Regions from separate parts of the Homo sapiens genome. Here region 1 is linked to region 2. Evidence: fine-mapped expression QTL. A gene starts in region 2. The other region holds a variant in brackets. All regions are shown on one strand. Distances are between the middles of the regions. Region 1 has its middle 29 kb from the start of GRTP1. Region 2 holds the start of GRTP1 (growth hormone regulated TBC protein 1).

Region 1 (2,898 bases), 29 kb before region 2:
AGTGAGCCGAGATGGCGCCATTGCACTCCAGCCTGGGCAACAAGAGTGAAGCTACACCTCAAAAAGAAAAAAAAAATCCAGTATAAAATAGTAGATTCAAATATGTAAATACGTGTGAAGGGGGCAAAGAAAGAGAAACGCGAAAAAAGGTGAGCAGTGGTTATCCACGAACACCCGATGTGTAGGTGTGTTTTCCCGTCGTTATCTGTCACTGCTTTCTGCGTTAATTTAAATGCACTTGCATCACTTTCAGGATCAGAAAATAAAGGCCTATGTGTGACCCTGGGGCGCTGGCGGGGGCTGGACGGAGGCCCAATGCCCCTGTTGCCCATTGTCTCCAGGCTTCTCCAGGACTCGGCTTCCCGCCTCTCCTTTGGGGACCGCACGAGTCACTGGGGGAGGCTCCGCGGGCAGCAGGTCTCTGGGAGGGGTTGTCGCCCCCTCGGTGCGCAGGGGAGCGACGGGTCCCTCCTGCACCTGCAGGGACAGGCCTCGGGCTGCACCGTCCCGCGCCCGCCTACCCCGCGCCCGCCTCGCCGGACGCCTCCTGCCTGAGTCCGCCAGGGGGCGCTGCCGGCCTCCCGGGCGGCGGCTGCTGCAAGAGGAAGCCCCGGCCCGCGAGCTGCTGCCACATCCGGACGCCGCCGGGAGCCGCCGGGAGCCGCCGGGGTGGGCGGGAGTCGGGGCGGCGCGCAGGTTCCCGGCCCCCTAAGGGACGGTTGCCTTCCCCAGAGCCGGGGACACAGGCGTACGTGCGGGGACCTCGGCGCTGGCCTCCGGGCTTCTGGAGCCCCTCCCTGGTGCGGAGCGGGGACGGTGACCTCCTCGTGGATTCTGGGAGGGGCAGCCTTGGCATCAGGACCTGGAAGCCGGAGAGGCTGCAGGGCTTCCAGCCATGGCCTTGCCACCGGAGGTCACGTAGTGTTTCCACATTTCCTTAGTGTGTACATGTGTGGGTCCCTGTGTTGTGGAGGGCTGTGTCTGCTTGGTGTGTGTGCACACGCGTGTGTGCATGGGTGGGTCCCTGTGTTGTGTAGGGGCCGTGTCTGCTTGGTGTGTGTGCACACGCGTGTGTGCATGGGTGGGTCCCTGTGTTGTGGAGGGCTGTGTCTGGGCAGGCTGTGTACACACCCATGTGCATGTGTGATGCGCACTGGGGCACTTGTCTGGGTAGTAGAGGTGGAGGCCTGTGTGGCCATATGTGCAACTGTGTGTCCGGGTGCGTGTACCACAGTCTTCCCTAAAATAGTAATACTGGGACCTACGTCATGGGGCTGTTGTGAC[C/T]GCGTGTGGCACTCCATGTGGGGTGGCACAGCCAGGCGCTGATCCGGCCACTTTGCCAGTCGGACTGACTGCGTGTCCTCTCCTTAGGGGTGAGAAGCTTCCTGGCATCGGGCCTGGGCTCCTGAGCCCCTGAGCCAACCGACTGATGGTCCCTGGGAGACAGCCCCCGCCCTGCTCCTGCCCCCCACACCTGAAAGGCTCATTGTGTGGGTTTGCTGTGCTCCACAGGGATGTAAACCGCCCCTCCTTTTCCCTGTTCTGTCTGTGAGAAGGTGCCAGGGATACTTTTTTTTTTTTTTGAGACCAAGCTTCACTCTTATTGCCCAGGCTGGAGCGCAATGGCGCGATCTCGGCTCACTGCAACCTCCACCTCCCAGGTTCAAGCGATTCTCCTGCCTCAGCCTCCCGAGTAGCTGGGATTATAGGCATGTGCCACCACACCTGGCTAATTTTTTTTTTTCAGCAGAGATGGAGTTTTCTCCATGTTGGTCAGGCTGGTCTCGAACTCCTGACCTCAGGTGATCCGCCGGCCTCAGCGTCCCAAAGTTCTGGGATTGCAGGCGTGAGCCACCGTGCCCAGCCCGTTTTTTTTAAGAGTCGGGGTTTCACTTTATCGCCCAGACTGGAGTGCAGTGGTGCAATCATGGCTCACTGCAGCCTCAACCTCCTGGGCTCAAGCAATTCTCCCGCCTCAGCCTCCTGAGTAGCTGGGATCACAGGTATGCACTAATTTTTGTATTTTTTTGTAGAGACAGGGTCTTGCTATGTTGTCCAGGCTGGTCTTGAACTCCTGGGCTCAAGCAATCCTCCTACCTTAGCCTCCCAAAGTGCTGAGATTACAGGCGTGACCCACGGCCCCCAGCCAGGGATACTTATGGAGGTCCCTGGGCAGTTCAGGTAAAGAGGATCCCACTGCCAGGCACGGAGGCTCATGCCTGTAATCCCAGCATTTTGGGAGGCTAAGGCAGGAGGATGAGTTGCGCCCAGGAGGTTGAGGCTGCAGTGAGCCAAGATTGTACCACTGCACTCCAGTCTGGGCAACAGAGCAAGACCCTGTCTTAATAAAAGAAAAAAGAAAGAAAAAAAAAGGCCGGGCGCGGTAGCTCACACCTGTAATCCCAGCACTTTGGGAGGCTGAGGCGAGTGGATCGCTTGAGCTCAAAAGTTCAAAACCAGCCTGGCCAACATGGCAAAACCCCATCTCTACAAAAAGTTAGCTGGGCATGGTGGCAGGCACTTGTGGTCCCAGCTACTTGGGAGGCTGAGACAGGAGAATTGCTTGAACCCAGAAGGCAAAGCTGGCAGTGAGCTGAGATGGTGCCACTGCACACCGGCCTAGGCAACAGAGTGAGTGAGACTTCAACAGGATTCATGAGAAGAGTCTGTTTTTAAAGCACACCTTCCTCTTCTAGGACTTTGATAGAAGGAGGTTAAAGTGCTCTGTTTCTGTGTCTTCTGAGAGGGTGGCCGCTCCCAGGGCATACAGCCCTCACCATTTCCCCCTTTGATGGACAGAGATGAGTTTCTTCTTAGCAGACTTTGGCCCACCAAGCCAGAAATGTGTCCAAGAAAAGCTCAAGGAGGAAAGAGAGTCAACCAAATTCACTTTCGGAG
Region 2 (2,898 bases):
AGGGGTTCAGGGAGTCACTGACTTAGGCAGAGAGGAGCCCAGACGGGGTTCGAAGACCCTGGGGACGGACGCCCACCTGTCAGTCCTGGACTGTGGGGCACCCGTAGGCCGAGGGGCAGGAGGCTATGGCCCTGTCTCCTGGCTTGGGTCTAAACATCCCAAGGAGGTCAGACCGTAGAGTGGGGGCTGTGTGATCTTTCAAATGAGGGACGCCGCGTGTTACCAAAGGCCAGTGCTGAGGAGCTGGGCTGAAAGCTTGGGGAGTTCCCAGAACCAGCAGACTAGGAACGGGAGGAACCGTGTCGGGGGCTCTGCTCCGCTGGGCACTGACCCCCACCCCGCCCCCCGGTCTTGCAAGGGCTGGAGAAGGGTGAAAGGCAGAGGCGGGAGTCCGCACTTAGGGACCGGTCCGTTCCACACGCTGCTGACCAGGCTCCTGGGTGGCGCTCGCATGGAACATTCCGGAAACACCCATGGGAAGGTCCCAAGTTGGTTCCGAAAGGCCCTGACGGACGCGCAGGGGACGCTGAGCCTGTGATCCTCGCCTCACCCAGACGAGGCCGGGCTGCTTCTCACAGGAAAGTGCGTCTGGAGTCCGGGGACGGCCTCCTCCTGGGGCCTGTCCAGGTCGCCCTGGGCCTAAATTACAGGCGGGGAGAGGCCTGTCGGAGGAGCCCCCGCTCCAGACCCCTGGGGGACCCAGGGCGAGGTCGCCCCAGCGCCTCACGTCTGGGGGCTCCCCTTTGCCACGTCGCCAGAGCAAAATTCAAAATCTGCAGTTCTGGCAAATTTCCGGGGCCTCCCGGACACGAAAAGCAGCTGAAATCTCAGGACAATGTCATTGGATGCGGACCGAGAAGAAGCCGTTCGGAACCAGAGCTGCCCCGGATTCTCCCAGGCCTGGCTCGCCGGTGGGGGGACCCCGGTCCCTGGTTTGGGGGGGCAGGAACGGGCGGGCGCCCCTGGGGGCTTCTCATTTGTGTGTTGGTCTCGGCCTTGAAATGCAGCGGAGAAAATAAAAAATAAAATAAAAATAGGAGTCAGGTGTCAGAGTCGGGTCGGCCAGGCACTGAGGTTTGAAGGAATCGCAGAAGAAGCTCCTCTCACCCGGGTCCAGGCCGCGGGGGTTCTGCGGGAGGCGCCCCCGATTCTGCCCGCGGGACGCCGCGGCCTCGGAAGCCCCGGGAGCAGGCCCCGCCCCGCCCCCACCCTCCTCTCTCCCCAAGTCCTCCCGCCCCCCCAGCCCCGCCCCTCCCCCGCCCTGGGTGCTCCCCTGCCCCTCCCCCGGCCCTCCCCCGCCCCTCACCCGCTCCTGCCCCTCCTCTCTCCCCAGGTCCTCCCGCCCCCAGCCCCGCCCCTCCCCCGCCCTGGGTGCTCCCCTGCCCCTCCCCCGCTCCTGCCCCTCCTCTCTCCCCAAGTCCTCCCCGCCCCCAGCCGCCCCTCCCCCCGCCCTGCCCCCCCCCGCCCCCGCCTCCAGCCCCGCCCCTCTCCGCTCCCCGCCCCGCCCCCACGCGCCCGCGGTCCCGCCGGAAGGACTTAAGCGCCCCGGAGCCGGGAGGCGAACTTGGGACCCGCTGGCCTCGCTCGGTGCGCGCCTCCCTCCCCGCATGCAGCCCGCCGAGCGCTCGCGGGTCCCCAGGTGTGTGGCGCGGGGTGCGGGCGTCCCCGGCGGCTGCGGTCCCCGCGCGGGCCCGCGACCCCCCAGAGGAAACTTCGGGGACGCCGGCCTCCTTCTCTCGGTTTTGCAGGATCGACCCGTACGGATTCGAGCGGCCTGAGGACTTCGACGACGCCGCCTACGAGAAGTTTTTCTCCAGCTACCTGGTCACGCTCACCCGCAGGGCGATCAAATGGTCCCGGCTGCTGCAGGGCGGGGGCGTCCCCAGGAGCCGGACAGGTGGGTCCCGGGGGCGCAGGTGGGTCCCGAGGGCGCAGGTGGGTTGGGCTGGGACGGGCCGGGCAAAGTCCGGGCTCCCGGAGCGGAGGGAGGGGGAGGAACCTTTCCGGGCAGGTCGGGACGAAGCTGCGGGCTCCGAGCTAGGGCAGCCGCAGGGACCGGTTTTCCCGCTTTGAGATGGGCCGGCGGGTCGGACGCGAAGGAGACCCGTCCCTCCCAGCAGGGAGCCATATCGGGATGGATCAAAACTCGATCCATGCCGGGCGCGGTGGCTCACGCCTGTAATCCCAGCGCTTTGGGAGGCCGAGGCGGGCGGATCACGAGGTCAGGAGTTTGAGACCAGCCTGACCAACATGGTGAAACCCCGTCTCTACTAAAAATACAAAATTAGCCGGGCGTGGTGGCTCCTGCCTGTAGTCCCAGCTACTCTGGAGGCTGAGGCAGGAGAATCGCTTGAACCCAGTAGGCGGAGGTTGCAGTGAGCCGAGATTGCGCCATTGCACTCCAGCCTGGGCGACAGAGCGAGACTCCGTCCTTGTGACGGGACCCACAGGGCCCTGCTCGACCTGCCGCTCCTCCGCGACCCCAGGCCTCCTACTGCTGCGGTGAGCACCGGCCTGACCGCCCGCCCGCCTCGGGGTTAGCTGCAGGGCCCCCTCCTCCGGGGCGCCCCAGGCTTCCCTGTGCGGAGGGCACCTCCTCATTTCTGCCTTTCCCAGCACAGCCCCTGCTGGAGTCAAAAACCCTTCCTCCCTGCAACGGATTTTTCATTCACTGCTCAGTCCTCAGAACCTGGGGCAGTGCCAGGCGACTTCCCTGTGTGTTCAGTGAATGAATGAAGTGTCTGCCTGGGGTGAGGGCTTGGTGGGAGTGTGCCCTGGAGCTAGGAACTCAGAGAAGTGGGGTCAAAGGGGAGTCCTGGGGGCTTCCTGAGAAGGGGGATGTGAATGGCAGCTGGGCTTCCAGGGACCGAGCAGTAGGGACCTGGTGGGGAAGGACAG

The links.
Region 1: its variant is fine-mapped to the expression of GRTP1 in whole blood (TOPMed, PIP above 0.99).

What each region holds. Positions count from the first base shown.
Region 1 is chr13:113,391,814-113,394,711 of GRCh38, reverse strand. No RefSeq gene overlaps it. Among named protein-coding and RNA genes, the nearest start is that of GRTP1, 29 kb to the right of the region's middle. RefSeq lists silencers at 321-430, 441-790 and an enhancer at 708-1,249. The variant C/T (reference allele first, on the strand shown) is at 1,285.
Region 2 is chr13:113,362,761-113,365,658 of GRCh38, reverse strand. GRTP1 (growth hormone regulated TBC protein 1) reads left to right here and starts at 1,529. Exons shown (of 8, transcript NM_024719.4): 1 at 1,529-1,639; 2 at 1,749-1,897. The coding sequence starts at 1,608. RefSeq lists an enhancer at 1-663 and a silencer at 1,651-1,945.